2 separate regions of the Homo sapiens genome follow, and region 2 is linked to region 1. The links come from fine-mapping of genetic effects on gene expression. A gene starts in region 1. The other region holds a variant in brackets. All regions are shown on one strand. Distances are between the middles of the regions.

What was found. PIP is the estimated chance that this variant, and not a neighbour inherited with it, causes the effect.
Region 2: its variant is the best candidate, but not a certain one, in a credible set for the expression of GDNF in fibroblasts (GTEx, PIP 0.58).

The regions. Positions count from the first base shown.
Region 1 is chr5:37,837,168-37,842,541 of GRCh38, reverse strand. It overlaps GDNF (glial cell derived neurotrophic factor), which reads left to right and starts at 2,501. Exons shown (of 3, transcript NM_000514.4): 1 at 2,501-3,035. GDNF-AS1 (GDNF antisense RNA 1) reads right to left here and starts at 2,658. Exons shown (of 4, transcript NR_145476.1): 1 at 2,504-2,658. RefSeq lists enhancers at 2,640-3,577, 5,035-5,104.
Region 2 is chr5:37,778,324-37,783,697 of GRCh38, reverse strand. No RefSeq gene overlaps it. Among named protein-coding and RNA genes, the nearest start is that of GDNF-AS1, 59 kb to the left of the region's middle. The variant G/A (reference allele first, on the strand shown) is at 2,844.

The DNA of each region.
Region 1 (5,374 bases):
AGTATCTCAAGCAAAGGTGGCCAGGCTGTGTACTCTGTGATGCCAACAACCTGGACATGAATGATTGGCCCAGGATAGGCACCTGCCCCCAGGTCTGCGGATATACAGGGTGTTTTGCAACCTGTAAGGAGACTGATACAAAGGCTCAGTCCAACTCTCACCCCTGGTGAATCCCTAGCAGGACAAACTAGATCCTTTCACTAAAGGAGTTTAAATGTGAGATCAACTGAGAGCTGAGCAGTTGGTAGCAGGAGCAGAAGCCAAAGGACACCCAGGGGAAAACAGCGAGAGAGGAGCTGAATCACCTTGGCGGCTAAGCCGTTAGTGGGGATCGGCAGATGCCTGCTGCTGAGGGGGCAGCGAGATAACCCAGTCACAGAGCTGTATCCTGAATGACCTTCCAGTTCCTGAACTTCAATCCAGTTTTCATGAGGCCTGGCTGGGTGGCCTTTCCGGAAGGCTTTTCGGAGACACGTGGCGGAATGGTGGAGATTCCGGTCAGCCTTCCTTCCACAGTAAATTCCCATTACTGAGGGTAAACCTCAGTGGTATCTGTTCCTTGCAACCCCCGCCCCCCGCCCAAAAAAAAAGCCCAATCAGCACAATGCCCAGGGCCTAGCACTTTGCCTGGCACACAGCAAGTGCTAGATATTTGCAGGTGCTTGGACGGGCTGATCATCCCCAGCAAAAAGCCCTCTAAAAATAAAGAAATCATTCAGAGTAAGAACATTGATGAGGGTCGTCTTCAAATTCCAAAAACAATGCTAAACGGCAATAAATATATTAAGCTTATTCTGCCCTCTAATTTCTGAATCTAACTACATTTCTACCATAAATCTATCAAAGAGGGAAATGTCATTTTCTGCAGAACTCCAGAGAGCATCCTAATTTCAGCTAAGGTATGTTTTGATGACTCGATTTTCACTTCGCTTAATCTTAAATCACAGCAACGTTAGTAAGAACAATTTTCCTCCCACACTCGCTTCACTGACAAACCTGCAAAGTAGCTGATCTTTGACTTTTAAGAAGTTTAATAATACATGATCTTCCCCCCACACTGCCACACGCATTTCCCCTGCCTATTGTCTGTATCAGCTACTTGAAGAACACATACTCCCCAACAACCGGATGAGTCATAAAATAAGAGGTACATGGACGTAAACTGAGCCTGTTTACACTTTCCCTGGCCCCAGCTAATAAAATAAAAGAGGTCCCACTGAATTCAGGTCCAATGGCTTCCGGAAAACAGGTTTCTGCTTAGCAAAGACATGCCCTATTTAGTACATTATTTTAGAGGTACAGCCAATTCCATGCCCCATGTGAATGAAATGTATTTATGGTTATAGCCATGCACAGGGTGTGTAAGGACTTGCCCTCCTCCTGTCCTCTACAAAAGAAGGCTCAGGCAGCTTCTGGTGGTGAACTAACCAACAAAAGGAATGCCCAGAAGGTCTCACCTCTCCCATCCACAGAGCTCTGGAATGGGGGCCGGGCCCCTGATCGCTGGAAACTCAGCATCCAAGTGGGCGCTTGCTGAAGTTTCCCATCTGCATTTTCGAAAATCTGGATAAAAGCAGGTTTAGCTCAACCTCCCCTAACCCGTTCCTGATAAAGTGATCTTACGCCTCTGGAATTGGGATTTTGAATGTATGTGCCTGCCCCATGTCTGGTATTAGATTACAACAGCATGAAAATGGAGCCTAGGACTGAGGAGCCGGCCAGCCTCAGAAGCCTTCTTCATTGCCTGCCATGTAATACATGATATGCAAAGCCTCTGACTTCAGCCAGCAGATATTTGGAGACCGTGTTGGCCTTAGCATGGGGACTAAACTAATGTGTGTTTAGGTCAGAAAGCGAATCAGAAAAGCCACTGGAGGGCACGTCACGGAGTGAGAGCCCTATAAATTCATCCCCACTCGCAGCGTCCCCTGGCAAATACTCGGCTTCCCTCACCCGGCCGCTCCGCACCTCTCCTTCTCGGTGCTAGAACTCCGGCCGGCAGCTCCTTTTCTCGCCACTGCCTCCTGCCCTGCGGAGAAGCGAGAGGGCGAGACACCCGAGCGGGAAGGCCGGCCTTCGACAGGCGCGAGGAAAGCCCGGCGCTGCCCTGCACCGGCAGAGCGCCACCCTCCCAGTGCGGCGCGCGGGGGCAAAGCCCGGCGCGGGCGCCGCGGTCAAGTTCGGATTGCCCCTTTCGGCTGGCCCGCGCAGAGCGCCGCACATTCCTCTCGATTTTTGATCCACCCGGAGAGGAGAAGGCGCTAGCCCCGCGGCGTCTCCGCGCTCTCAGCGCTCTCCCTGCAGCCCAGGGAGGGGCGCCTCGCGTCGCCCACTCGCACCCCGGCCCCCCGCCTCGGGAACTCCAGGGCCTCCTCGCTGCTCTCCTCTCCTCCCCCACCGCCAGGCCCAGCCGACGCCTCCCGACCCCTCCCTCCCGGGGCCCCGCGCCTCCCCTCCCCCACCCCGGACCCCGGACCCCCAGCCCGGGCTCTAGAAGACCAGCCTGCGCTCCTGGCGCCCTCATGTCTTCACGGGACTCCCCGCGCCGGTTGACGTGGTGTCTCGTTCGGATCTCCAGGCAAGACCTCAGCTCCGGCAGCAGCATCAGACAAACCAGTCTCGTGCTCCCAGGCAGTGCGCCCAGAGGAGGCGCAGAGCGCGGCAGCTGCCGCTGAGCCGCCCGCAGCGCCCCGGGCCCGCGCAGCCCCAGCCAAGAGCGCGACGCGCGCAGCCCTGTCAGCCCCCCACCCAAAGCAGCGGCGGCTGCTCGGACCTCGGCTTCTGGGGGTGCGGGGGCCCGGCGGGAGAGTTGCCGGCAGCCCTCGCCCTGTTGGCGGCGGCGGCGGCGGGAGTCTTGGCCGCCGCCTCCAGCGCGCCCTTGCTGCCCCGCGCGACCCCAGGATTGCGAACTCTTGCCCCTGACCTGTTGGGCGGGGCTCCGCGCTCCAGCCATCAGCCCGGATGGGTCTCCTGGCTGGGACTTGGGGCACCTGGAGTTAATGTCCAACCTAGGGTCTGCGGAGACCCGATCCGAGGTAAGTGAGGGAGCGGGCCGGGGAGCAGGGAGCGGGTGGTGCCTGCGTCGCGGGTGGGTGCGGCCGGCTGAAGGGCGCCCTAGTCAGAGGGGTGCGTCTGGACCCCAGAGCAAACGGTGAGAGTAGAAAGTGGAAAGACTAGAGGGAACCTAAGCTATGCGAGGAGAGAGAAAAGTAGAACCGGAGAGAGGCCGGCCTTTCGGAGGGGCATGTTGCCTTTTCCACGTGGGCAAAGATCTGTGGAGCCCCAGATGCGCCTGGACCCGGAATGCCCAAGAGGGGCAGTTTCCTTCCCCGACTCGGCCAGGTGCTCTTCCGTCAAGTCACAGAACGATTCAGGGCTTGGGTCATCTTCGAACCCACCGCCGTCGAAATGTGTCCTCTCTGGACGTGCAGAGATACTATCATTGCCAAGAGTGCAACTTACTATTGAGCTTGTTTTGATCTGTGCCAAGGAAAAGCGCAGGCCGGGGGAGGGGCTGCTGCAAAGGTGCTGAGAACCTAAAAATGGAGGGCTCACCTCCTCCGGGCGAGGTCTGGCAAAGCTACATTCCTCACCCGGTTGCCTGCACGTTCCTAACGCCCTCCACCCCAACTAACCATCCCCGTCGAGGTTAGGAGAGGGGCTTTCTTGCCAGTCCTGGATTCAAATCTCTGTCTCGAACGTATTCTTGAGACTCCACTAGGCCATTGAGGTTATTATTTTAATGACCCCTTTTTCTCCTGTACTCTGTGCCGCCTTCCAAAAACACCCCACCACCACTGCCACTACTTTACACCACCTCGAGGCTAATTCCGCACTGGTGGTTTGTTTCCTGCCCCAACGAAGAAAAACGAACCCTCTTCGGGCTGGAAACGGACTTTCGCGGGTTCCCGCCAGCTTCCTGGGGCCCAGCTAGTTTCGGCTTTGGTAGAATCCGCCGCCAGGACCCATGTGCGCGCCCCCGGGGGGCTTACCCATCCCAGAGCTCGCGACCCTTCTGCTCATAGGCGGGGACAAAGGCAACTCTTCCGGCCCCTGCTGCGGAGATGTTAGAACGCGCTCGACTCTTGCTCAGTGTTTGGAATATATGCTTAGGTATTTCAAGGAAGAGATGTTTCTTCCAACCTCATTCACGCACCCAGTCCCGCAAAGCCGTCAAAGCCGGCCTCGACCAAACTCGTACTGTTTCGCTGCGCCTTCGCTTTGTCAGGGAAGGTGGCGCCTTTTCAACAAGTAACAAGTGTCCGATCTCTGGGAAGTCCGCCGTGTCCCTAGCCCTTTCCCGCTAGCAATTCGGGTGCTCTCGGGCCTGGAACCTGGCCCTTTAAACAGACCGCTTTCCCAGTTTGCCTGCGAGAAGTGTCCCAAATTCTTTTTCCTTCCCTCATCTTGGGCCCCGCAGTTATGGGGGGTTGAGGGGAGAATAAGTCCTCTGTCAGTCAAGGACACGAAGCATAGTTAAGAAAAGCAATAGATCTTCCAGCAATTTCTGTCTCTACCTCCCCCCGCCAAAAAAAAAAAAAAAAAAACCGAGTTTATAGCAAACCCGTCTCCCCGCCCCACCGCCTCCTTTTTCTCTCTCTGAGACCTGGATCTTGAAGGCAAAGCCCAAACAAACCTCCCAGCCTGCCAGGCACAAGAAGGTGCGGGGGCACTGACGGCGGGAGCGCTGCCTCCTGCGAATCTGTCACGGTGACGCGTGGAAGGGGTGAGGGATGGTCTGAAAGCAGGTTGCCAAGAAACCCGCTCAGGTGAAGTGGGGAGAGGAAAACCAGCGAGAATGGAGGGGTGGGAGCCTGAAAAGCAGAGATGCCAGTAAGGACCTCCACAGGTTCCCGGGCTAATGGGATTTCGGGAGGCTCGTAGAGGGAGTGGTGGTTCTCCGGTTTTATAACTAAAATGATAACACAGCCTCCGGGCCGCGTGGGCGCGACACGGCTCAGACGGTTTCTGGTGCCCCCTGCTGCCGGGAACTCAGAAGTGCCTCGCGGCGAGCGGCTGCTTCTGCGAGCACTTCTGTGGCTTTCCTGGGCGTCCTTGCCTCCCCAGGCCTGGGGACCCACAGGTGCCGGCGCCCACGGCCTGCTGCTTTTGCCCTGCCGGGACGTGGTGGTCCCGGACCCAGAAGGGGACCAGCTTGCCAGGCACGAGAAATGGTGCGCGGTCACCTGGCAGAGCAGAGCCCCCGTCACTTGAGGAGCAGAGCTTGGTTCTCGCACGTGGCGGCGCGTAAAGCAGTTTGCACCGCGGGCAAAGGCCCATGGTTGAGGAGAAGCGCGTCGGGCAGATGTAGATGTGTTTTGGGAAAGCGATAGAGAGACAAACTGAGAAGCCGAGGGGTGGAGCCCACACGGAC
Region 2 (5,374 bases), 59 kb after region 1:
TGGCCTTAGACAGTCTAGTCCACAGACATAAAGGAAGTTCACTTTGGAAAAGAATGGTTAGCTTCAAAAAGAAAAAAAAGAGAAAAAAAGGGGGACAGAATTTATGTAAAAAGAATGTTGCGTGGTAAATTCTTCTCCTGAAATAAATCAACTGGCTGTTTAAATAAAGAAATGTCTGTAAAAAGTCTGAAAGTTGAAGCAGGTCAAAGAATTGTCTGTGAAAGCCGTGAAAGAGAAAAAAAAAGTTATAAAAAAGGAATTTATGCAAGAAATGTTGTATAATTTAAAAGTAACTAGGCCTCCTGAATGTAAAACTATTAAAAAAACCGTTTATGTGCAAGGTGTATAAGGAAAGTAAAATATACCTTTGGTAAAAGGATTATAAGGAGGCATAAGACTGTAAATTTTTACCTACACTAAAAGGTTAAATATATATATATATATTGTTTTGAAGGTTTAAGCAAGTTTTAAAATGTTATTTGTAAAGAAAATTCTGTGTATAAACATATTAGCTAAAGTTAAAGGGGTGTCAACCAGTTTTTCTGTGAACTGGACATTAAAGTAAAAACACAACGGGTTTTTCTTAAAGCACTAACCTACTCTTTAACAAAAATTATAAAAGGTTAAAAAGAGTCTATGAAAATCTTATGGTCCAATATTAAAAATTGGATAAATATGTCTACAAGGTTTTATTAAAATTAAGTTTAACATTAATAACACACTAATATAAAGGTGAAATTTAGCTTATCTGGTATAAAAATTATACAAGAAGCATTATTAAATATAAAATGGTGTTTGGCTTTCTTTGGTCTAAAAACTAATAAAAATAGGTGCTAAAGGAAATTTCTCAGTAAGAAGGCACCAAAGAGTATAAAGTCCACTGTTGATGTCCCCACATTTAAAACAAAAAGTCAATTTCTTAGAAATTACATACTTGGTTTATCTTCCACTTTCCTTTCCCTCAAAACTAAAAGTCTTTTAGCACAGGTACCACCCCTAGAATTTCCAGTAAACCAGCACCAGCCTGAAGATCACCTTCTTATCAAAGGGTGGAAAGAAGAAAAACTCAAGCCAGCCTAGGAAGGACCCTACCTTGTGCTGCTAACCACTGAGACTGCCATTCGTACAGTGGAAAAAGGATGGACTCATCACACCTGAGTCAAAGCGCCACCCCCTCCAGAGTCATGGGCCATAGTCCCAGGTGAAAACCCTACCAAACTAAAGCTAAGAAAAATTTAACTCTTTCATCTATTCTATTACTCTTTCTTCTTTCCTTGCTCTATTGCTGACCATCTAGTTATTAACATAACCAAGTCAATTTTGCCTCAAACTATTGCATTTAATGCTTGCCTTGTTATACCCTGTGAGGACTTGCTAAGTCAAAGACAGATCTCTATGTCAGAAAATTACCTCCATCCCTCCTGACTCTCCTCATACTGGGCATTAGTAAATTAGCACCATTTAATCCAGGGAGATTTCAATAAAGACTCCAGTGTTAACCAGGATTCTTGCCCCCCAGTGTAGAGCTTTTATGCCATAGTTGGTCCAACGTTCTGCATACCACTAAAGAGCAAGGATGGACTGCCCCAACCATTTTTTGTAATTTCCTAAAATCATACATTCATTTTACTAGAGGATCATAAAAGTTAAAGTCTTAAAACAAACTTTAGCAATTAAGACAGGATACCAAGATGCAAATGCCTGGTTAAAATGGATCAAATATTCCATCTGCACATTAAACAAAAGCAATTGTTATGCTTGTGCACATGGCAGGCCAGAGGCCCAGACTGTCCCCTTTCCACTAAGGTGGTCCTCCAATTGACCAGGCGTGGGCTGCATGGTAGCTCTTTTCCAGGATTCTACAGCCTGGAGTAATAAGTCGTGCCAAGCTCTCTCTACTATATACCAAAGTCCGGCACCCTGCAGGTCAGCCCCCGAGGGCCATCCAGCTTCCGTCTCCCAACACTAAGTTCACTTCATATCTCTCACGACTGGGAGGAAACTTAGTGTTCATTGGAGACCTGAAGGGATGCAATGAGCTTAAGAATTTTCAAGAGCTTATCAATCAGTCAGCCCTTGTTCATCCCTGCGCGGATGTGTGGTGGTATTGTGGTGGACCTTTACTGGGCACTCTGCCAAATAACTGGAGTGGCACTTGTACTTTAGTCCAATTGGCTATCCCTTTCACCCTGGCATTTTATCTACCAGAAAGAGGAAAAATAAGACATTGTAAATAGAGAGAAGTCCCTTATGGGTCTTTCGACTCTCACATTTATTTAGACGCAGTTGGAGTCCCATGGGGAATACCAGATCAATTTAAAGCTTGAAATCAAATAGCTGCAGGATTTAAGTCAATATTTTGGTGTGTGACAGTTAATAAAAATGTTAATTGGATAAACTACATCTATTGCAACCAACAGCAATGAGCTTTTCATAAGTTAAAAGAAAACCTCATGTCGGCCTCGGCCCTTGGGCCACCTGACCTCACAAAACCCTTTACACTTTACGTGTCAGAAAGAAAAAAAAAAATGGCAGTTGGAGTTTTAACCCAGACTGTGAGGTCCTGGCCAAGGCCAGTGGCCTATCTCTCAAAACAACTAGATGGGGTTTCCAAAGCCTGGCCCCCATGTCTAAGGGCCCTGGCAGCAATGGCCCTGTTAGCACAAGAAGCAGATAAACTAACCCTTGGGAAAAACCTGAATATAAAGGCTCCCCATGCTGTGGTAACTTTGATGAATACCAAAGGACATCATTGGCTAACAAATGCTAGATTAACCAAGTACCAAAGCTTGCTATGTGAAAATCCCCGCATAACCAATGAAGTCTGCAACACCCTAAACCCC[G/A]CCACCTTGCTCCTGGTATCAGAGAGCCCAGTTGAACGTAACTGTGTAGAGGTATTGGACTCAGTAGAGGTATTGGACTCAGTTTATTCTAGTGGGGCCAACCTCCAAGACCATCCTTGAACATCAGTAGACTAGGAGCTGTATGTGGATGTGAGCAGCTTTGCCAACCCCTGCAAAGTGACTCTGAAAGAGACAACAAGCCCTGCTCCAGTCACACCCAGAAGCTGACTGGTCCACGCTCAGCCAAAGCATGAGAAAACTCATCACAGGATTCATTTTATAAAATTTGAACTTGTACAGTAAGGACTTCAACTGACCTTCCTCAGACTGAGGACAGTTCCCAGTGTATACGTCAAGTCACTGAGGTAGGACAAAAAGTTGCTACAGTCCTATTACTTTATGGTTATTATAAGTGTACCGGGACTCTAAAAAGAACTTGTTTATATAATGCTATTCTATACAAGGTATGTAGCCCAGGACATGACCAACCTGATGTGTGTTATGACCCATCTGAGCCTCCCATGACCACAGTTTTTGAAACAAGATTAAGGACTGAGGACTGGTGGGGGCTCATAAACTATATGAGTAAAGTGTTAGCCAAAACAAAATAAAAAGCGGTGCCCAAACAAGTCGTTTTGAAGTTTGATGCCTATGCTGTCATTAATAATAATAAGTTAGGAATAGGATGTGGTTCTGTTAATTAGGAAAGAGGCTATATGGCAGAAAATAAGTACATTTGTCATGAATTAGGACTGTGTGGAAATAAATATGGATACTGGTCTTGTGTCATTTAGCTACTTGGATAAAAAAATGAAAAGGATCCTGTCCACCTTCAGAAAGGGAAAAGTGGCCCTTCCTGTACCAGTGGTCAGTGTAATCCCTTAGAACTAGTAATAACCAACTCCCTTGATCCTCACTGGAAAAAAAGGGGAGCTTGTAACCCTAGGAATTGATAGGGCCGGACTGGATCCTCAAGTAAATATTGTGGTTTGAGGAGAAGTTTATAAACGCTCTCCTGAGCCAGTATTTCAAACCTTCTATGATGAACTGAATGTACCAGTACTAGAAATTCCAGGAAAAACAAGAAATTTGTTTTTGCAATTAGCTGAGCATGTAGCCCAGTCTCTCAATGTCACTTCATGTTATGTATGTGGAGGAACTGTACTGGGAGATCAATGGCCATGGGAAGCCCGAGAATTAATACCTACAGACCCAGTTCCTGATAAATTCCCGATTCAAAAGAATCACCCTGATAACTTCTAGGTCCTAAAAGCCTTAATTGTTAGACAATACTGTATAGCAAGAGTGGGGGAGGACTTCACCCTTCCTATGGGAAGACTCAGCTGCCTTGAGCAAAAACTGTATAATAGTACTACAAAAACAGCCACCTAGTGGAGTTCAAACCATACTAAGAAAAATCCATTTAGTAAATTCCCAAAGTTGCAAACCGCGTAGACCAACCTGGAGTCCCACCGGGACTGGACAGCCCCCACTGGACTATACTGTATATGTGGGCATAGACCTTATGCCAAATTACCCGACCAGTGGGCAGATAGTTTTGTTATTGGCACTATTAAACCATCTTTCTTCCTACTGCCCATAAAGACAGGCGAACTCCTGGGCTTCCCGCAAAAAGAGAAGCATAGCTATAGGAAATTGGAAAGATGATGAATGGTCCCCTGAGAGAATCATACAATATTATAGGCCTGGTACATGGGCACAAAACAGCTTGTGGGGATACTGGACCCCCATTTACATGCTCAACCAAATCATACGGTTACAAGCTGTCTTAGAAATAATCACTAATAAGACCGGCAGAGCCTTGACTATTCTGGCCTGGCAAGAAACTCAGATGAGAAATGCTATCTATCAAAATAGATTGGCTCTCGACTACTTGCTAGCAGCTGAAGGAGGGGGTCTGTAGAAAATTTAACCTTACTAATTGCTGTCTACACATAGATGATCAAGGGCAAGTAGTTGAAGACATAGTTGGAAATATGACAAAACTGGCACATAAATTTGTTATGTGCCAAATGTGCAAGTGTGCCATGGATTTGATCCTAGGACCATGTTTGGAAAATGGTTCCCAGTGCCAAAAGATTTAAAACTCTTATAATAGGAGTCATAATAGCAATAGAAACCTGCTTACTGCTCCCTTGTTTGCTACCTGTACTTCTTCAAATGATAAAAAGCTTCATCACTACCTTAGTTCACCAAAATGCTTCAGCACACATGTACTATATGAATCACTATCGATATGTCTTGCAAGAAGACATGGGTAGTGAGAATGAAAGTGAGAACTCCCACTATTGAGTGAGATTCTCAAAGGAGGGGAATAAGAGAGGAGACCACCCCTCATATTGTCTTATGCCCGATTTCTGCCTTCAAAGAAAGAAGTAAAAACTAAAAGGCAGAAATGAAATCCAGAGGCAGACAGCCCGGTGCCACACCCCAGGCCTGGTTAAAGATCGACCCCTGACCTAACCAATTATGTTATCTATAGATTCCAGACATTGTATGGAAAAGCATTG